Homo sapiens: one gene and its partners. The protein of the gene in region 1 purifies or fractionates together with the protein of each later gene. This does not show direct contact. Each region holds a gene or a part of one and is shown in the gene's direction. Other genes may lie near its edges.

Region 1 (7,023 bases):
GAGGTGTGAATGGGAAGCCCCTTGCCCAGACTCCCAGGGGTACCATTTGGATCAAGTGTCAGCCCCACCAAAGCTCTGATCTGTCCTGAGATAGGAGCAGAGACTCAGCCACAACTTGGAGACCCTGAGCTTGGAGGATATAAGGGGAGCAGCTGCCTGAAGGGCTTTAGGGTCTCTGGGCTGGAAACTCTTCCCTATAGCACAGATTTCTCAGGAGGGCCATGAATATTTTGGCTCGGTTACAGAGAACACATTCAGCAGGCTTCGGAGGGAGCTGATTTTCCATTTCCCCATGAGGGATCTCAGGAGGGCAGTAAAGCTTCTTCTGAAATTATTTAACTTAAAAGCTTCTGATGAAGATCAGGCACACTGCCTTGCACATAGCACTCTAACCCGTCAGAAGTTTCCCACGGATCTCATTTTGCTCCTAATTACAGCACGGCAACATAGGTTGGAAGGTATCTCTCAGCTCCACCATTTTAAAGACAGATAGCTTCGCTTTATTTGCTGCTGAGAGGATATTGTCTTAAAATTTTAAGTTGGTTCAAGCCCCAAAGCCTTCAAAAGACCCAGCTTTAGCTCTTTGTTCTCACACAAAGGGCTGCCTGGTCTTTGTGGAGTGAGTTGTGAAGGCCTCCCCAGAAGACTCAGGCCAGTCCTCGTGTGCTTTCTGCCACTCACCCGTGGTCACACTGCATCACATTGACAGATGCGGCAACCCTCCAAGACAGCCATTTCTGGATGCAGGGACAGAGCCCTCAGGGGGGCGAGCTGAGCATGGAGCCGTGGCGTGATGGTTCACAGTCCTGGATGGATGCAGCAGAGTGACCCTCACCCATCATACCCGCATGTGCACAGAAAGCCCCTCCCGTTCCTCTACCACCATTGAGAGCACCAGGGGACTTTGCCAGACCTCTCCCACCACTTGGGAAATGTTTGGGGCTTGGCAAAACACAAAACATACTTTCTCAGGCACTTCTTGTTTTCATGGTTTTCATTTTTCACTGCCTGTTAATCTGGAGTGAAATAGAGTCCATATGTTCCAAGTCCCTTTGCCTAATTCTCTGCAGCATGATTTTTATCTCTGAAATTGTTTGAAGTCCCAAAGTTTTTGATCTTTTTGCCTCAGAAAGTGGGCACCACATTTTGCCACAAGAGGATGTAAACCTGAGACCTAAAGAACGTGTGTTGGCCTGGTGCTCCCAGAGGTGTGTGGACTCAGCATGGGACAAGTGGCTCCCTTGTCTTTTCAGGGAAGTTGTTCACCTAGGAGTAAGAAAGTGCAGATGGCCTCCTTAGGCTGTGCACAGTGACCTAGGGCAGTATTCTTTTCTCATGGCAAAAGGGGGAAAGCCTTTGTAGGTTTCTCCATTAGGAAATTAGCCATGGCTGTAAAGGGCTTATAAGAAAACAGGGCCTCTGCCTCTGCCTGAACCCCTCATTTTCTGTCTTCCCGGTAGAATCTACTTACCCTCAAGTCAAAGAAATGTCATAGCCACGTGCTTAGAGAAGAGTGCAAGACTGCCTCTACTTATTTCCTACATTAAATGGGAGAGAGTGCTTTTCTCTAAAGAGCCATTTTGGTGCTTTCTCCTATGCTAAGACAGATGATTGTCATGAGAAGATCAAATACCTGTGGTATTTGCTGGAGAGCCGAGTCCAAAGCCCAGGCTGACAGACAGGCAGTTTGCAGAACAGGTACCTGTGTGCTTTCTTCGGGAGAAATCCCAGCATACAGTGAATGGCATCTGACACACCCAGGATTGTGGGGTATGTCAACCACACACTCAGACAATGCAAGTTCCCTTTACGTTGCACGTGGTTTTAGGGATGAGAGGAATGCTCTGTGCCACACTAATCCACCTACACACATACATACATACACACACACACACATAAACACATATACACACACACACAGTGTCTGACTAGAAGTCTATACTTAGAATTGTGCTCCTTTAGCAAGAACCTTTTGATAGCGAAGATTTGGGTGGGGAAAAGCTGGAAAAAGAAAAAACCTGAGGATCTTGAGGATCTCAGAGTGGGCTTTTCAGAAGCCCACCGAGAGAGGTAGGGTAAGGGAAGACTGTCCAGAATGCAGAGAAAACAAACTTTGCTTAGCAATTCGTGAAGGGTCTGCTGGCTCTGCGTTTTGGGTTCCTTTTGGAACTGGAAGGATTATCTTATTTTTAACAATATGTCCCAAAGCCTTTAAGAATTTATTGTGAATGTATGATGATGCCTGGGCCTCAGAACCGGAGGGGATCCGTGCATGGGCTTCAGGTTGTGGCAGAGTTTTGTGCATCTGTCTGAGTTGCATGTTTTGGAGAGAGAGTCCACAGCTTTCAGTAAGAATCATAAAGAGGTCTTGAGCAAATGGAGCAAGAAGACCTGGCAACAGAGCCCGGGCTTCTGAAGCTTTCAAGATTCAGGGTCAGCAGAACCTTCTACCAGCTCTCTGGGGCTCAGGAACTGGGATGGGCCCATGAGAGCTGGGACCTGCCAGCTCCCCTAGACTTTGGAGGACCCTTTTTCCATTATTGTGAGTGCTGTCCTTCAAAGGTCTTCCTGTCTCTTTGTGGATTTTTTTAATTAGCTTTTTTTTTCTGACCATAAAATTACAAATTTAGAAAATATGGAAAAATGTGAAGAAAATAAAATCAATCATAATCCTACTAATCCAACCACTCCTACTAATCAGAGTAAACCTCCTAGGGTTTTTCTTTTTCTTTTGTCATTTCAGAGAGGGTTGAGATCATATATGTCTATGAATAGAGCCCTTTTCATTTAACATTACATCATAATCATCTTACTTGCCATTGAAAAGTCTCCATAAGCATCATTTTCTATGGTTGCACAATATTCTATTATATGGCTGCATGACAGTTGACTTAACCCTTTTTCTGTTGGGTATTTGCGTTGCTCATAGTTGTTTTGTTTTTTGTTTTGAGACAGGGTCTCACTGTCACCTAGGCTGGAGTGCAGTGACACAGTCATAGCTCACTGCAGCTTTAAACTCCTGGGCTTAAGTGATGCTCCCACCTCAGCCTCCTAAGTAGCTGGGACTACAGGCATGCATCACCACGCCTGGCTTTTTTTAAGAAATGGGATCTTGCTATGTTGTCCAGACTGGTCTCAAACTCCTGGCCTCAAGTGATCTCCCCAAAACTCCAGAATTATGGGCGTGAAGCCACTGCATCCAACCTCTGTTCCCAGTTTTTTGCTATAATAAATAATGCAGTCAAAACTATCTTTGGGCAAGAAGCCATGCTTGCATATTGGATTAGTTCTTTATGAGAAATTCCTAGAAGTCTCGTTTGACTTTTGAAGATATCGTGTGTTAAGATGTTGCCGAGACCCATCTGTAAAGCATGAATGTTGCAAAAGACTGTGGGCACAAAGGTGGGGCAGGCAACAAGGTTTGCTGGGTTCCTGCTGCACACTGGATGCACCACAGGGTGCTGTGGGTATTAATGGAGACTTAAGCATTAAACAACCCAGCCCTTATCCTTGAGGGCCTTACTGTATAATGTGGAGCCATATCATATATATTAGGTTGGTGCAAAAGTAATTGCAGTTTTACCATTAAAAAGAGGGCACCACAATTACTTTCAGTGGTAAAACCACAATTACATTTGCAGCAACCTAATAAATAGCCTGAAGGGATGTGTGTGTCTCAGATCCCTGGGGAATCCACATGTGAGTCTCAGGGTGGAGTTGCATTTTTGTATATCATGTCATGTTCATTTTACATCTTCTGGAGCTTTCATCAAAATCTCTTTATCTATGGAGCTGCAAAGAATTCCATGCAATCATTGTTTTGGGTGTGTAGGGAAGGGGTGTGGATCATTTTTCTCTAATTATTCTTCTTTTATTATTTTATTTTATAGTTTTTATAATAGAAAAAAATAAAAACCTTTTCTTAAGTGCCATTAATATGACCAATAGCGTATACTAAGCAGATGGCAGTCAGGATCCTGCTTTTGGGGACCTTGAAATAGGGTGTAGTAGAGGCCAGAGCCTACACCCAATGGGTGTGAGGCAGATTTTGGCAGTATTTATCACCTGTCCCTGCAGTGACCTACCGCTGCATTTACATATAAATCTGTTCCTGGTAGCATGAGCTGGTGTTAGATGAGCCTTATGCCTACGGGATCATATTGTCAGAACATAATGTTACACAGGTGTGTGGCACTTTTGGCGATACAAACCAATGTTATCTTATCTCTCTGCCGGAGCCTCAGTCCTCATCTGGTTGCTAAGCACTAAAAGAGCTTCTCACTGCTATTTCATGGCCATCAGGGGCACCAGCCCAGCTCTGCCAACATAGAAGAAAAGGCAAGGAGGTGTGGTCATTCTGTAGGCTCCAGGCTTTTCACTCAGGGCCAGAACTAGATGTGCACGTGGAAACTGACAGCCATGGTTTGTATTTCCTTTCTCCAATCTGTACCGACCAGTTCTAGGATTTGGCTAGCTCTTCCACTGGGAAAATGAGAAAGCCATGTGCCAGGCTGTGGCCCTGGACAGACATCTGCAATCTCACGACTTCTACAAAACCCCATCTTAGCTCAGCACGTTGTAAGTGTTCGTGGATTTTGTCAATTGAGTGTCTGTAGTCAGGACAAGTGGGATAGGGTGGCGTGTGTCTCATCACCCCATTTCTCTTGGGGTCTCTCCCACATCTGCGGCTGGAGTGCCCAGGTCTCCATTAGAGGGTCTATGGGTGAGCATGCCTAGACCACAGAGACCTGCCCCAGGACAGGTGCTTTGACTCCCAAGTCTTTTTGCCTAGCGTCTGTTTTATCTGACTTGCTAACAAATCTGTGTCATTCTTTTTTTTTTTTTTCTTGCCCTCCAGTTGGCTGTTTCTCCAGGTCCAGCTGAGTTGTTTTTCTTCTTCCCTGACTCTTGGCTTCCATGAAATAAATCCCTTTCTCATTCCCTGCCACTCTCCTTTCCTTTGATCCTTTGTTTTCCCCAGACCCAGAACCACTTAGTCTCCTAAAGGGCTCAGAGAGGCATTTTGGTCTCTGTGTAATTTATACACACATCACAGTCATCACATAAGACTAAATCTTATTTGGCCTGACCTCCACTGGCCAAAAGCAACATACCCCACCCTGAAGCAGATGGGGGTCGGGAAGGAAGCAGGCACTGCCAACTCCTCAGATTTAGGTGATATCCGCTCTTTGTAGGAAAAGAAAAACGTTAAACGAACACATCTGTGACCACTGCCAGCCCTAATCCAGAATGCAAAATAAACAAGCATGATAATGCTCAAAATACAATCCTGGGGAATTGTGAGGGGTGGAGAGGGGAAGACATTAGCCAAAAGCTTAGACCTTCAAAGGGTATCAATAAGAAGTTCTTCAGACTTAATTAGACTTACCTTGGCTAGGATTTAAGTTTATGTATTCTTATTCTGTCCAAATACAGGCACTCTTCTCCTTTCACTATATGATTTTTAATAATAATACACTTTTACTAAAAATGATATTTTAAATATAAAATACAACATATCAAACATTTTATATATATGATAACTGTAACAATATATTTTATATGTAAAAAGATTATATTGTATACTTTAATAGTACTATCTAATATTTTGTATTTAAATAACATAAAAGCAAAATCTATTTCTGTTTAAAATGTTATAGGTTTATATAAATAAAATATAAAATGAAGCATTTTATACTACCTTAGCAAATATTGTTAAACATTTCTAAAATATAGGTTACTTAAATATCTTAAAATAAACCTTACTATTTAAATCAATACCAGACATTTAACATTAAAATTAAGTAAGTCATGGCCTTTTGGGACCAGGACACCTGTAATCCCAGCACTTTGGGGACTTAGAGGGTAGGGGACCACTTAAGACCAGGAATTCGAGACCGGCCTGAACAATATAAGGAGACCCCTGTCTCTTAAAAAAAAATTGGAGACCCCATCTCTTTTAAAAAAAAAAAATGGCTGGGCGCAGTGGCTCACGCCTGTAATCCCAGAACTTTGGGAGGCTGAGGTGGGCGGATCATGAGGTCAGGAGTTCCAGACTAGCCTGGCAAACATGGTGAAACCCCATCTCTACTAAAAATACAAAAATTAGCTGGGCATGGTGGCGGGCGCCTGTAATCTCAACTACTCGGGAGGCTGAGGCAGGAGAATCGTTTGAACCCAGGAGGTGGAGGTTGCAGTGAGCCGAGATGGTGCCATTGCACTCCAGCCTGGGTGATAGGGTGAGAATCCATCTCAAAAAAAAGTTTAGCTAGGTGTGGTGGCACCTACTGTCTTAGCTACTCAGGAGGCTGAGGCAGGAGGATTGCTTGAGCCCAGAGATTTGAGGCTGCAGTTAGCTATGATCGCACCACTGCAATGCAGCCTGGGGAACAGTGAGATTCTGTCTCAAAAACAAACAAACAAAAAACAACAAATTAAGTAATGCAACATAAATATTTAAAGTAATATTGAAATATATAGAATATCTTTTTTATTTTCATTATTTTTTATTTTTTGAGACAGAGTCTTGCTGTCCCCAGGCTGGAGTGCAGTGGCCAGAACATAGCTCACTGCAGCGGCCAGAACATAGCTCACTGCAGCCTCAACCTCCTGGGCTCAAGTGATCCTCCCACTTCGGCCTCCTGAGTAGCTGGGACCACAGGCGTGCACCACCACGCCCGGCTCATTATTATTATTATTATTATTATTATTATTATTATTATTATTATTGAGACAGGATCTCTCTGTGTTACCCAGGCTGGCCTCCAACTCCTGGGCTCAAGGCCTCCTCCGGCCTTGGCCTCCCAAAGTGCTGGGACAACAGGCATGAGCCACCACATCTGACCTTCTTTTTCTATTAATGTGAAATATTTTAAGATCTGACCCAGGGACGCGCGCTCGGACATGGTCCTGCCCCGCTGACCGCTGTCTTCCTCCCACCCGCAGGCATCGGCAAGAACGTCATCTGCGACCGCACGGCCACGCCGCTGGACGCTTTCCGCATGACCTCGGCCGCCCACTACT
Region 2 (7,585 bases), on another chromosome or scaffold:
CTATATGATACTGTAATTGTGGATACATGACCCTATGCATTTGCCAATACTCATAGAACTATTTTATAGCATGTAGAATGAACCTTAACGTATGCACATTAAAAGAAATCAGAGGATCCCACTGGAACACAAAATGTGACAAAATAATCAAACTGTATTATAAGTATGAAACAACCTCACTAAAGAAGGTGTAGAAAAAGGTACTTATTTGGGAATGAGTGGAATCTGTAAGACTAAAGACAAAAGAAAATGTACATATGCACGGTACTCTAGTTAATAAAGTTGTTTCTCATGGGAAAGTAGGTTAACAATTCTGATACTGTTATACATGTATACTGCAATAAAATAAGTAAATGTTTGGTATATGGTGGGAACCAAGTATCTTATTGTTGGAGTGGGAGTTTATAATAAGTAAAGGGAGAAGGGTAGAATGATTCATCTAGTAATGGATTAGAGTTGAGGCACCACATAGGTATTAATTCATGTTTAGCTTAATACAGATACAGATGGTTATGTACAGAAATATTTATAGGTATGTGTATATAGATGTGCTAGTAAACATATGTGTGCAGTTGGCCCTCTGTATCCATGAGTGCTGCATCTGTGGATTCCACCAACTAGGAATCAGAAAAAAATGGATGGTTACATCTGTACTGAACACACACAGACTTTTTTTTTCTTGTCATTATTCCCTAAACAATACAGAATACCAACTATTTACATAGCATTTACATTGCATTAGGTATTTTAAAGAATCTAGAGATGATTTGAAGTATATGGGTGGGGGTGGGGCACAGTGGCTTACACCTGTAATCCCAGCACTTTAGAAGGCCAAGGCAGGCGGATCGCTTGAGCCCAGAAGTTCAAGACCAGCCTGGGCAACATGGTGAAATCCCATCTTTACTAAAAGTCAAACAAATTAGCTGAGTGTGGTGTTGAGCCCCCAGGAGGCGGAGGTTGCAGTGAGCCAAGTTTGCACCACTGTACTCCAGCCTGGGTGACAGAGTGAGACTCTGTCTCAAAAAAAAAAAAAAAAAAAAAAAAAAAAAAAAAAAAAGAATAGTTTCACCACCCTAAAAAATATCCCATCCTTCACCTATTCAATCTTCTTCTCCCTCCCCTCAATCCTCTTGCAACCACTGATCTTTTTACTATTGCTATAATATTGCCTTTTCCAGAATGTCATATAACTAGAATCATACAGTATGTAGCATTTTCAGACTGGCTTCTTTCACTTAGCAATATGCATTTAAGTGTCATACATGTCTTTTTGTGGCTCAAGAACTCATTTCTTTTTATTGCTGAATAATATTCCATTGTATGGATGTACCACAGTATGTTTATTCATTTAACTACTGAAAGATATCTTGGTTGCTTCTAGTTTTTGGAGTTAGGAATAAAATTGCTATAAACATTTGTGTGTAGGCCAGGTGTGGTGGTTCATGCCTGTAATCTGTAACCCCAACACTTTGGGAGGCTGAGGTAGGGGGATCCCTTGAGGCCAGGAGTTAAAGACCAGCCTGGGCAAAATAGTGAGACCTTGTCTCTACTAAATTTTTTTTTTTTTTTTTTTTTTTTTTTTTTGTGAGATGGAGTTTCGCTCTTGTTGCCCAGGCTGGAGTGCAATGGCACGATCTCAGTTCACCGCAACCTCCGCCTCCCAGGTTCAAGTGATTCTCCTGCCTCAGACTCCCGAGTAGCTGGGGTTATGGGCACGCGCCACCACTCCTGGCTAATTTTGTATTTTTAATAGAGAAGGGGTTTCTCCATATTGGTCAGGCTGGTCTTGAAATCCTGGCCTCAGGTAATCCACCTGCCTCGGCCTCCCAAAGTGCTGGGATTACAGGAGTGAGCCACCACGCCTGGCCATCTACTAAATTTTTTTTTAATTAGCTGGGCTTTTTGGCACCTGCCTGTGTTACCAACTGCATGGGAGGCTGAGGTGAGAGGATTGCTTGAGTCCAGGAAGTTAAGGCTAAAGTGAGCTGTGACTGCACCACTGCATTCCAGCCTGGATGACAGAGCAAGACCCAGTCACTAAAAGAAAAAAAATCTAGTTCTCACAAGCAATATATATATATATATATATATATATATATTTTTTTTTTTTTTTTTTTTTTTTTTTTTTTTTGAGACAGAGTCTCACTCTGTCAACCAGGCTGGAGTTCAGTGGTGCAATCTTGGCTTACTGCAACCTCCGCCTCCTGGGTTTAAGCAATTCTCCTGCCTCAGTCTCCTGAGTGGCTGGGATTACAGGCGTGCCCCACCACGCCTGGCTAATTTTTTTGTATTTTTAGTAGAGACGGGGTTTCACCATGTTGGTCAGGCTGGTCTTGAACTCTCCTAACCTTGTGATCCGCCTGCCTCGGCCTCCCAAAGTGCTGGGATTACAGGCATGAGCCACCGTGCCTGGCCCTCACAAGCAATATTTCAAAGGTATATTTCTGGGTTTTATTTCCATGATAATTATGTCTGCTGTGGGGAAGACTTATCTTTCAAAGAATTTTAATATTTAAATCAATGGGAAGAGAAAAACCAGGCAGTGGGATGGGTGTGCCATATGTAAATTACATTATACTAGTTTGTTTTGCAATGGTGTTTTCATTTTTTCTCAGGTATACCAGCCATATAATTATTTTTAACGATATGTTACATTTTTATTCTCTAAAATTATGTCACTCATTTGCCAAACATTTACTGAGTACTTGCGCAAGAGAAAGGAAGGGACAGTGACATTCGTTCTTCTATTCGACACAGATTTATTGAGCCTATCTTGCAAAGAGCACTTTGCAAGAAGACTGGGATACAACTTTAGACAATCTATACAGTCTCTGTCCTCAGGGAGTTTACAGTCTCATGAAAGAGAGAATCTGTAAACAGTTACACAAATTACTGTATTTAAATTCTATGAAGGAAAGGAATGTTATGAGATGTGTCATTATAGATGTAACTTTCAATACTTTTCTCACCTAATTATCACAATCACTGATGTAGTTTACAAATGAGGAAAATCAGGCTGAGACTGAACTACATGCCAAGGGCCCGAGAGCAAGTAAGTCCTTGCAAGTGAAAAACAGAATGTCTAATTTAGGTCTATGTAATTCTAAAGATCATGCTTGAAAACATTGTATTATTGCCTAAATTTCACGAAACTGTGAGGGACAGACCTTATTTTGATTTTATTAATAAGAAAACTGATGCTGAGAGGAACTAGAACTAAAATCTCTTGAACAATCCCCTTATTTTTCTATTATGTTATAAGCTTCCTCAAAACATGTATGGCTTGTAAGTTTGATGATACAAACAAACCCTACATGTAGAAACTGAATAAATTTTTTGTACTTTAAAAAATATAGGATTGTTGTTGAAACAAACTACCATTAAGCAAAGCACTATATTTTAACATAATTTTGGCAAATGTCTTACATCTCTCTTCTTTGCTGATTTTGTTATTTTTCTATGTTAATCACATATTTCATTGGACAAGTCTATTGCTATGGGTGAGAACATAGAAGGAAACAGTTCAAACAAGCAAACTCACTCTTTATCAAATTATTTTGTGGAGGAAATGTTCCTGGCCAGGCGCAGTGGCCTCACGCCTGTAATCCCAGCAGTTTGGTAGGCTGAGGCGGGCGGATCACTTGAGTCTAGGAGTTTTAGACCAGTTTGGGCAAAATGGCGAAACCCCGTCTCTACAAAAAACACAAAAATTAGCTGGATGTGGTGGCGCGCACCTGTGGTCCCAGCTACTCGGTAGGCTGAGGTGGGAGCATCACCTGAGCCTGGGAGTTCGAGGCTTCAGTGAGCTGAGATCACACCACTGCACTTCTGCCTGGGACACAGAGACCCTGTCTGGAAAGAAAAGGAAAAAGGAAAAAAAAAAAAAGGGTTCCAATAAAAATTTCAATTTATGTCATTCAGAATTTCACGGATTTTTTTCAGCTATTGCAGATTCTTCAGATGACTCCATCAATGTAATAAGAACCTTGAATTCTTCTTTGCAGAGGAAAAACTGACAATATATTCATCTTTATGTGGGGTGCAGATGGGGAAAAGATTTTTAAAAGCACAATAGAAAAGGAAAGCAAGATTACTTTTATTTAAAAAACCTAGATACCTCTGCTTAAGCCTTTCTGTTGTCAAGTTGTTTGCAGCAAAAAACAGGGATATTGCAAATAGAAAAAATATGAAAGAAATCACATACATAGTGCAGGAAATATTATTAGTAATAGATTTAGGACAGAATAAATTGCCCAACTGTAACTTCGTTTATCTTTCTGCTAGAGGATCTGGTGGCCACAACAACTTATGCACATTTTCAAAGATAAATCATGGACATATTTAATAAAGATTACTTCTCTTTGCTTATTACTATCATTTGGCTTACAATGGAGCACGCAGTAACTACCTTCCTTGCCTTTCTTGAGATTCTCCTTTGGCTGCTTACACAGGAAACCAAGGCGGGGAGTGCCACGGGTGATCTCATGCTGGCATGACGTCAAGAACTCTTGACGTCAGAAGGCGGTTGCCACGGACACCGTTCGCCACCGACGGCAGAGTCGTGAAACCCCATCACTACCACACTCGTCTCCGTTTCGGCCTCTGCAGGGTGTAAGCTGCTAAAGAAGCTTCAACCTTAAGGGGGCCTCAGGGAGAGAGTTGTGCTCCTGCCGCCGAGAGCTCCACCTTCGTGGCTCTGGGTCCGGGGCCCCGGCCTGTGGCGGCGAGCGGCGGCCGCTGGAGACGAGCGGCGGCGGCAGGCGGCCAGCCCGGGTCTGCCTCGCTCCGTGCAGGGCCGGGAGAGGGATCCGCCATATTGGAGCTGGGGCCGAAGGTGCCTTGGAGCCGCGGCGCGAGGCGGGTGGAGGTGGCGGCCCTGGCCTGGATCGGGAAGGAGTCGGCTCTGCCCTGGCCCGCAAGGCTGGGGAGCTAATGAGCCTCTCTGGCTAGTCTCCTCCCCGTCCACTCCCTCCACTTTCTGCCGCCGGGACCCGGCTGGGAGCCGGCTGTGGCAGTGGCAGTGGCAGTGGCAGCGACAGGATGTTCTCCAAGAAGCCGCACGGGGACGTGAAGAAGTCCACCCAGAAGGTGCTAGACACCAAGAAGGACGCACTGACTCGCCTCAAGCACCTGCGCATCGTCATCGGTGAGGAGCGAGGGGTGGCAGCGCCGAGGCCTGGGTTGCCCGGCCTTCCCTCTCCTGGGAGCCCCTGCGGACTCTCTCTCGGGACCTGGCGCGGTGCAGGAGAGGGCAAATCGTAGCCTCTGCGGAGACGCGGGAGGGTGAATAATTCGGAGAAGCGAAAACTTGGCAGTTGGCAGCACTGATTACTGTTAACACAGTAATCTAATTTTGAGTTAATAGTCTGAACTTATTTTTTAAAATTGGTATTACTCTAAAAACTTAGATCTTTAAGACTTTGTGGGGAGACCTGGCGTTGTGGATAATGGTGTTTATAGGATATGTTTGCCAGATGACTACTGCCAACCCCACCCAAGTAAAAAGAAAAATAAAATCCTCTCTCAGACAATATAAACCTTAATCTTTCAAGTTTCTTGGCAGATGAAGACAAGGAGGTAGCAGTTACACCTCTTTGGGAAGTGGGCGGTTCCCAAAAAGCTGTGGGAAGGAGCCCCGCCCTTTTGTTAATGCACCTTGTTCATCACTAGTCATTTAGAGGGAGAACTATTATAGGTAGTTTAACTCATCCTTTGCTTCTCGAGAATTGTATATAATTCTATTTTTAATTAAAAATATTTTTTTTATCGTCTGCCCTTAAGTTCTGTTTTGCTGGTAGACCAAACAGTGCTCTAAGTTTTGAATATAATGTTAATCGACTCTTTTGAATACTTAGTCATTTGGTAGGCTGATAAAGGCTGTAATAATACTTATGGAACATCTGGTCCAGTAGTTGGATTTTTTAGATGAAGACATTTGAGATGAAAAGGAAAATTATTTCGCCTGTGTTGATACTTAGAGTTAATGGTGGAACTGGCTGAAGAAGATGCATTCATCCAGATGCCTGAATCCTAGTTCAGAGTTTATCTCGAGCTGTCCTCCTGATGCGTATTTGTTTTGGAAAGTGATGTTTATTTAGTGAAAAAAGTAAGTCCCTTATTTGAGGTACATGTTTCTCTAGTCTATTGTTTACTCATACCACCAGGATACCACCAATATTACCCAACATTTCTATGATGCTTTACTGTTTACAGTGATTTCACGTAAATTATGATAATCCTTGCAATAACTCTATAGGTAGATGATATTATTCTCCATTTTTTACCAACAAAAAAGCTGAAGTTTGGGAACATCGAGTAGTCAGCCAGCTACCAGGAGGCTGAGTCAGAATTGGAACCCAGATTTTGTGTCTCTAGTTTGTTTTTTTACTCTTTCTACATTTATGACAGCTAATCTTTGTCACAAGTAAATTGTATTTATTCCAGTGGAGTAGTAAGAAAGCAGTTAATCCAGTTTAGCGCTATAAAAAGCTCAGTTTTCAAGAAAATGTAAAGCTTCTAAATATAGTGGAGATTGTGATCTTTTTGTTTTCATTCTTCTTGAGAGTTAAGCCATTGAAATAAAGATTTAGCCGAGAATAGGACACAGTAAGTTAATGTGTGAATGCAGGCGAGGGATTCACAGGTAATGGCAGTTTGAAATTGAACACTTAATGGAGCTTGACACCTACTTGGGATAAGCTGTAGGTTAGGTAATGACACAGCTATAAAGTTGAGTTCCAATAAAGTATCGAGATTTCCTAAATTAAAGGCCATACTTTATTTATAGACTGGTTAAGGAATTATTTATATATACTTTTTTGGCATAGAGTTTTTTTCCATCTGGCAGACATGGAAAATTAAAAGGTAAATTAAGAGAGAGGTCACACATATAAGGCATTTTGTAGGACTTAGCTTGCTTGGTTTGAAAACAAAACAAAACAAAAACAAGTCTTTTATTGTTGTCGTTATTTTGTTTGAAATACAGTTAATGTAATTTCTAAGAAAATGAATGAGAGAAAGTAGAATGACAAAAACTAGTGTCTTTTAGAGGTCTGCCAATCAGGTATTTGATTTTGCAGATGGAAAATCCTTTCTGGAAGTAGGTGCGGGCTTTAAATAAGGTAAACACAATGAGGAAACTAGTTTGCAGAGTAATTGGGCATTGCCAGTTACACAGGCTTTTGATTTTTGTTTGGTCCCATAGTTCATAGTTCATATGGGACCAAACAGAACTGCCATTCACTCAGGGTACTTATGGGAGGATTCAGTGCATCTATATGTATGAGAACATAATCATAATTTAAACATCCGCTGTAAACTTTTTTCCTGGCATGTGTTCCCACTGTAGGACAATCCAAGTTAAATTTATAGAACTTGACTCTGAAGATTTAGATTTAAATCTGGTATGTTTATTGATACTGTTGCATAATTGATTTGTAAAAACTAGAAGTCAGGGTTTTCTTAAAACAGAAAAAAAAGCCTTGTCTGATTTCTAAAGCTGTTATCCTTTCTACCTACCCCCTCCCCCCCATTTTACAACTAATGGTAATGATATTATAAATTAGCACATGTAAATTGGCTAACA
Region 3 (7,769 bases), on another chromosome or scaffold:
GCCTCCCAAAGTGCTGGGATTACAAGTGTGAGCCACCGCTCCCGGCCTAATTTTTGTATTTTTAATAGAGACAGGGTTTTGCCTGTTGGCCAGGCTGGTCTCGGACTCCTGACCTCAAATGATCTGCCCGCCTGGGCCTCCCAAAGTACTGGGATTACAGGCGTGAGCCACTGTGCCCAGCCGGGTTTAATGCCTTTATAAAAAGCAGAAGAGACACCAAAGCTTCCTCTCTCCAACATGTGAGGACATAGCAAGAAGGCAAGTGGGGAAGAGGGCCCTCACCAGGAACCAAATAGGCCAGCACCTTGATCTTGGACCTCCCAGCCTCCAGAGCTGTGGGAAATAAACATCTGTTGTTTAGACTGTGGTACCCAGGCTGTAGTATTTTGTTATAGCAACCTGAGCAGACTAAGACAGAGGACATAGGCATGGCCAATCCTGGAGGACAGACTGACAGCTGATCCGGAGTCTGCCAAAGTGGTGAGGTGACTGCCCTGGAGTCAGCTGGGGAAGGGGTGCACAGGTAAAGGATGCCTGCCACACGTATCCCCCTCCCCAAGATCACCCTGGCTGCAATAAGCCAGAGGTGGTACTCTGGTCTGAAGACAGAGGTATAAGCCAAGGCATATATCCACTCAGGCAGCTCAAGCACAAGCATTTGCAGAGCCCAGATCCTTGAACTCGTGCTGTGTCCAAGTGAGTGAAAGCATGTCAGCAGCATTTCTGACAGCCTAATCTCATATAATCTAGTGAAAGAAATTCTACACCAGGCAGCAGGAGTGAGCTGCTTGCAAGGCTGCTCTCAGAACCAGATCTGGCCATGACGACTCCATAAACATGAATTCTGGAGCTTCTCAGGGCATCTGGTTGACCCTACATATGTGTGAGAGATGGGTAGGGGTAAGAGAGAGGGTTGGAGAGCACCCTGAAGAGGAGAAACAGCAAATGGGACCCACAGGGAAAGGACTTGGTCTGGAGCTCGGTTGCCCTACCTAGATGGCACCACTCACCCTAGCTAGTCCCAGCCACTGGAGAGAGACTTAGAAAATTTCAAGGTAGAAAATTGTGGTCAACAAGAGTCACATGGGATCTGGTCTAGACAGAGACACCCTTCCTAAATGGCATTGCTAGCCCCAGAAGGGCACTTACAAACTTTTGAGGAATACAGTCCAAAGTGCAGGACCCTCTTAAGGCACAGAGTCTGGCACAAGGGGCCTCACTTGCCTGAATCTAATGGTGTTACTACCATCAACCACTGGATACTATCCACTAAGAATTAACAGTAGGAGCAAGAAGGTGGGTTCAGCACTGAGCCAATGAAGTTTCTATCCGTCCCCTCATCCATCCATCCATCCATCCATCCATCCATCCATCCATCCATCCAACACATGTTCATTGAGCACTTAACACCATGCCAGTATTGTTTTAGGTTCAGGAAAACAGCAATGGGTCTGACCAACTATTTCTACCCCAAGCTGGTACTGCACAATTAAAAAAGAAGGAAAAATAAAACAAGAAAAAAATGGCCACAGACGTATCTCACATACAGCTGTTCATTTACAAACTTTTCTCAATTATGGTTCTTGAAAAGTGTTCCAATTACTGCGACTGTATACAATTTAACCCAAAACTTAGTGGTTGGGGTAAATGACAATGTTTATTTTACTCATGAATCTGCTATATGGACTGCTCAATATTTTTCATGGATCCACATCTCTTATGGGCTGCTCTCAATAGGGTTAGTTTGTCCCTGCTCAGCTTGGTGTCAGGTTGGGGTGGAGGCTTGAAGCCTGGGGGCTGGAATCATCTGAAGGCTTCCTCACTCATATGTCTGGCTATTGATGCTGACTGTCACCAGAAACTTAGCTAGGGCTGGTAGCTGGAACACCTCTTCATGTTTTCCTTATGTGGCTTGGGCTTCCTCCCAACATGGTGGCTGGGGTCCCAGAGTGAGCATTGTGATAGGGAGCAAGCCAGGTAGAAGCTGTGTCTTCTTTATGACCTAGCCCCAGAAATCACATAGCATCACTTTTGCCCTATTGGTTAGAATGGTCACAGACGCAGCCAGACTCAAGGAGAAGGAACATCAATCCCACTTCTCAGTGGGAGGAGTGTCGGTTACATCATAAGGAGAACCATGGGATGGATCATATAGATTGGTATGGCATCTCCCAGAATGATGCTTTCAGGGTAAATAAAACAAAAAAGACTGGTGTAGTGATCTTTGGAAAAAAGTCTGTCACAAAAGCTTATACCGCTGCTCCTCTTTTTTCCAATTCTGTGCCTTTCCAAACACACTATACACAATGATATTTTGACATTACAGTTCAGATGAAGACATTCCCCAGTTTAGTCGATGTTTCTAGTTAGAGATCATGCCGTGGAACAAATTTGAATTGTGCACTATGTTTGGAGATCCAAAATGTTTTACTATGTGTAGCATCTCATGTGTCTCTTAAGTTTATTGTACATGTGTGCTTTTCTCAAATGTTTCAAAGTGTTCTAATGTTTAGTCTTTAATTTTCCCTCAAGGTATATGTGCGTATGTGTGTTTTATTTTTATGTTTGTTTAAGTGAAGACTTCAAAAGTTTTAAAAAATTAGCAAAGAGTGCAGAAAAAACATATCTTTTATGCCAGGCACAGTGATGTGTGCCTTTAGTTCCAGCTACTTGGGAGGCTGAGGCAGGTGGATCGCTTGGGCCTGGGAGTTTGAAGCCAGCCTGGGCAACATAGCGAGGCCCTGTGTCTTAAAAAAACAAACCATCATTTAGAGAACCACTCACTTGCATCTCTCCTCCACCAACTTGCACCTAATATTAAATCTTGTCTTTCTGTCCAGAGCAGTAAGTCTTACTGCCTTACATGTTATGTAAAAACCATATTTTAAGCAAAATTATTTGTTTGTATAATTTTCTGTTGCATCAATATATTTTTTCTGTTAAAAATATTTAGGTGCCTTAGGCTGGAATTGAACACAATTTTGCCCATTTTAATTAATGGGAAAAATTTAACAGCTTTCCACTTAGAAGCAGAATTTCAGGAATGAATTGAAACCACTAGAAGGGTGATAGCTGTATTTTCATCATCTCCCCAAGGGCTTTGGGACAGCTTTCCCATCCTCTGTGCCTGTCACTTTTCCAATTCCCATCACCCGTTGTTCTTCCAGTTAGTCACCCCTCCCTTGTCTGTTACAGGGGTTCAGTATTAATTGTGTTAGAATGCATCTGGTTGCAAGTAACATAAAACTCAACAAACTCTGGTATATATAAGATCCCTCATCCCGATAAGACAGGAAGGTAGTACAGGGTTTGTGTAGCTGCTTGAGTATGACTTAAACAAACAGGCTCCTGTCTTTCTGCTCCACCTTCCTCAGCACAGCCCTCCTCATGGCCTCTAGGCTGCTGTGCTCCCAGGTGTTACCCAGTTCCAAGCATGAAGCAGGGGAAAAGTGAAGGACACAAACTTCTCCAAGGGAAGAAGGAAGGGAAGGTCTCCTTTGATACTTCTGCCTACATCTCAGTGGCCAGGACTTTGTCTCACTGCCACCCTTAGCAGCAAAGAAAGTTGAGAGTTGTGTGCTTTGCTTTTCAGCCCCTGTAGTATAGAAAGGCAAGGGAGTGGTTGAAATAGATCTTGAGTTAGCCAACTACATAATTTGTCACACTGTGTTTAATTGAAATGTATTGCTTGGATCCAGTGTCCTGGACATAGCCTCGTTCCTGTCCTAGCACATTCTTACCCTCCTTTTCCCTCTTCCTTCCTGTAGCTATTTTTCTGGGGGGTGAGGTGTGGTCTTGAGGAAACACTCTTCAGTTTTACCCTTTCTGTGAGGATACTAGTTCCCTTATCACTCATTCCTCCATAGTCTCTTCTAACTGAGGTGAGGAGTCAGAATCTTCTTTGCTCCCTTCTGCTTTTCAGACAACCGTGCCTTCACCTCTACTCAACACCCTGACCCCTCCTCCCTCTCTCAATACCCAAGGTCAGTCTCAAGGCCAGGTCCTCCGTGAAGAATTCCACCATCCCTCCCTCCTCTTCTTTCTCAGTCCAAGTTTCCTCCTTTAGATTCTCAAAGCACTTAAGCTGTACCTCTCCAATGGTATTATTTTCTTCGTTGAAGTGAAAGCAAATTATTGAAAGTGGTACTGTTTACAAAATGTCTAGCGCATGGCAGGTGCTCGAAGTAGTATCTCTTAGTATTATTACTACTGTCTTATCTCGATCAGATTCAGCTCTTTAATGAGAGGCTCTAAATCTTATGTTCGATTCACCTTTGTAACCCACACCGGGCCTGGAATAGAGCACTGTTCATAATTAATGCTGTGCCCGTGTAATAAGACGGCGGCGAGCAAAGGGCATCATTTCAGAGGAAGAGTGCTGTAATGGTGGGATGGGAGAAATTCCTAGAACCTAGGTGGGAGCCAGAATCTTGCAGAGAAGCCCCTTATCCGTCTGCACCGAAAGCAGGTAGAGTGGATGCCGTAAGATTCCTAAGGACGCAGGTAGAGCGCCTCCTCTGTGCCGCGATGAGGTAGGTGCATCCGTCACTTCACTCCTCCCTCTCCACTTGATCCGGAATGGGAGGAACGCAATGCGTCCCGCGCGGCGATCTGGGATAGCTGCGCAGGCGCAGCTTCCGGCTCTGTGTCTCGGGAATTATTTGACGCCACCGGTTCAGCCCCGTAGAAAGCTCTGATTAGGCGCACCGCGCACGCGCAGTGGCCCACTTGGCTGGGGAGTTATTTGACGCCGCCGCCCCTGGCAGTCGGAAGTTGCCTGAGCAGATCCCAGCCGGCTGGCTCGAGTGGCCTTCGTCGTCCCTTGGCGCCCTGGGAGAGTCGCTGACGGGTGGACTGACGGACCGCCTGAGGACGGCCGGCCAGGGCGGTGAAAGCGCCAGCCCTATGGCGCGGGTCGCGTGAGGCGGAAGGCCGAGGACGGCCGGCGGCGGCGCCCGCCCCGGCGATGCGGGCCCCGCCCGTCGCCTCAGGTAACCGGGCAGCCGGCCCCGCCGCGGCCGGACCCTCCCCTCTCCTTCCCTCTCTTCCCCACCTGGCGGTCAAGGGACGGCTGAGGCTTGTTTCTCGGCTCTGGGTGCTCCAGGGGCCCGGCCTTTGGAAGCTCATCTGCAAATTTTTGGGAGACCCACGGGGGCGGGGAAAGCTTGGCCCTGGAGTGGGCGGCTGCTGTCGAGTCTGTGTAAACCCGGTCTAATCCTTGGGAGCTACCCCGGCCAGGCGAAGCTCTCTCCTGGCAACCTGGGGGAGGGGGCGGGTCTGGAGCGGAGCTAGACAACTCCCGCAAAGAATTTGGTCCAGCAGAAAGGTTAGGCAAGTTGCTGCCGCCCAGTGGGGACGATGCTGCCCATTGCACAGTGACACTTTGATGAGGGAGAGTTGATGATGGGAGTAAACAGCTAACCCCCATTAAGCGCTTCTTATCCGCCAGGCATCATGCCAGGCCATTACGTTCTCCACGTCTAACTTCACAGCAACCCTGTGAGGTAGGATTGTTGTCCCCATTTTACTGACGAGGCAACTGAGTCCCTGGGTGGTTGGGTGACTTAATTACCCAAGGTCACATAGCTAGTAATTTGAACCGGAGCATCCGACCCAAGTGCTTAACAATTAGGGCAGTGGCTCTCCAACTTTGCTACACTGTAGAATCACCTGGGGGAAATTGTAAAGGTTTCTGATGCCCATGTGGCATCCCAGACCAAAACAATCAGAATGTCTGGAGTTGAAAGCCAGACTTCAATATTTTTTTTTTAAAGATGCCCAAGTGATTCCAGCTTGCAGCAAAGTTTGGGAACCGCATGTAATTTGATAATTCTGCATCTCAAAAAGCATCTCTCTTTCTCCAGCTTAAGTGTGCAGGAGAATTGTCTGGGAGCTTGTTAAACTTGCAGGTTCCACCCGCAGAGATCTTTAGGTTGACTGACCACTACACCTTGTGAAAGACTGTTAGGGATGGAATTCTCTGCAGGGATTCTGAGTCATCTGGAACATTTAAAATGTATGCATCTTATGCAAACTGCTCGTTTGCAATTTTCCTAAATATACAGTACTTATAGGTGTAGCGTCTGTAACCTCTGGGTCGTTTTTACATATGCTGGAAGTCTGCCTAGACCATCCTCTGAACGTTCTGGCCATCCCACCCAAACGCACACACTTCTGCTCTCTCCTATATGCATATACACACCCTTTTCTTTTCTTTCTTTCTTTTTTTTAGACAGAGTCTTGCTCTGTTGCCCAGGCTGGAATGCAGTGGCATGATCTTGGCTCACTGCAACTTCCGCCTCCTGAGCTCAAGCAGTCCTCCCACCTCAGCCTCTCAAGTAGCTGGGACTACCACGCTTGGCTAATTTTTGAATTTTTTTTGTAGAGATGGGGTTTCTCCATGTTGCCCAGGCTGGTCTCAAACTCCTGGGCTGAAGCAGTCCACCCACTATGGTCTGCCATAGTGGTGGGATTACAGATGCGAGCCACTGTGCCAGGCCTACATACCCTTTTCTTCCTGTCTCTGGCTGCATTAGCTTTAAGCATTCCCTTCAAGATACCTCTGTCCCTGACCCCTACCCACCTTGAGTCCTTCCAATTTGCTCTTTAGGAACATCGTAGTGAAACTTATCAGTTATTTTTCTGAGTTGTAGTTCTATCCCTACTTCTAGATTATGAGAAGCTTTAGGGCAGGGACTATGTTTTCTTCATCTCTGTATTCCTTCCAGTGCTTTGACATACAGACTCACAAAGCTTTTACTCAGTGGAATGTTTGGGTCCTTTTATGTCATAGATAGATCATGTTGCGAACAGATTCTTCTCTATTTCCATTTTTGTAAAAGATGTTTGGTAGTTCCCAGCTTATAGAGTTTTGTTCTTTTTGCTTAGGAGTGAGTATTCTAGTTATGTTCAGCAATTTGTCCAGCAGTTGAACACACACATTGAGTTCTTACCAATTGCAAGGCACTCTGTAACTAACCATGTGCAATCAACATTGTTTGATTTTTAATGTCTGATTCTATCACAATCGGACGCAATCATGTCTGTAGGGAAAGTCTTTTTATTACTGTTAGACCTTTGCATGTGTTCCCTACTTCATTGTCCAAAAAAGTGTTTAGTTGTCATCCACTAAATGCCACTGCCTTGTTGGTATTTGGTAAATACAAGCAGATGGGATTGCCATTGGTAATGTTTGGTCCTGTTCACCAGGAGAGAGGACGTTAAGTACTTAATGAAGAGTAAAATCATGTTGTCACAGGAATTGACAAATTTAGCACATATTTATTGCAGAATGCCTGAACTGCCATTGCCCCATTTGCCATATTTACAAGTTTAAAGGAAGGCAGACCAATAATTCAGATTGGATTTGTTCTTGGTTGGTCTTAAAACCATGTAAGGATTTGCAAAAGTTAGTGAATATGTGTGTGAAGGTCATTATGAGGAGGTTTTTGGACAATAAAGATTTTTTTTTGTATAGCAATTAAACATGACAAAGTATGTAGACTGAATTAAAAACACATTTCATAAAATTTTTTTTTTCTTTTTTTTTTTTTTGAGATGCAGTCTCGCTCTGTCCCCCAGGCTGGAGTGTAGTGGCGCAATCTCAGCTCACTACAACCTCCGCCTCCTGGGTTCAAACGATTCTCCTGCCTCAGCCTCCTGAGTAGCTGGGACTACAGGCACCCACCACCACACCTGGCTAATTTTTTTGTATTTTTAGTTGAGAGGGGGTTTCGCCATGTTGGCCAGGTTCATGTCGAACTGCTGAC

Evidence for each region.
Region 2: the proteins of GFOD1 (region 1) and RALGAPA1 purify together in Homo sapiens (affinity purification with mass spectrometry; 4 studies listed by BioGRID and IntAct, with this or other methods). This does not show direct contact.
Region 3: the proteins of GFOD1 (region 1) and RALGAPB purify together in Homo sapiens (affinity purification with mass spectrometry; 4 studies listed by BioGRID and IntAct, with this or other methods). This does not show direct contact.

The regions. Positions count from the first base shown.
Region 1 is NC_000006.12:13,365,585-13,372,607, reverse strand, and holds part of GFOD1 (glucose-fructose oxidoreductase domain-containing protein 1 isoform 1 precursor), read left to right. Parts: intron 1-6,945; coding exon 6,946-7,023.
Region 2 is NC_000014.9:35,806,291-35,813,875, reverse strand, and holds the start of RALGAPA1 (ral GTPase-activating protein subunit alpha-1), read left to right. Parts: upstream 1-4,580; 5' UTR 4,581-5,040; coding exon 5,041-5,146; intron 5,147-7,585. UniProt on the Homo sapiens protein: Catalytic subunit of the heterodimeric RalGAP1 complex which acts as a GTPase activator for the Ras-like small GTPases RALA and RALB.
Region 3 is NC_000020.11:38,468,079-38,475,847, forward strand, and holds the start of RALGAPB (ral GTPase-activating protein subunit beta), read left to right. Parts: upstream 1-4,764; 5' UTR 4,765-4,991; intron 4,992-7,769. UniProt on the Homo sapiens protein: Non-catalytic subunit of the heterodimeric RalGAP1 and RalGAP2 complexes which act as GTPase activators for the Ras-like small GTPases RALA and RALB.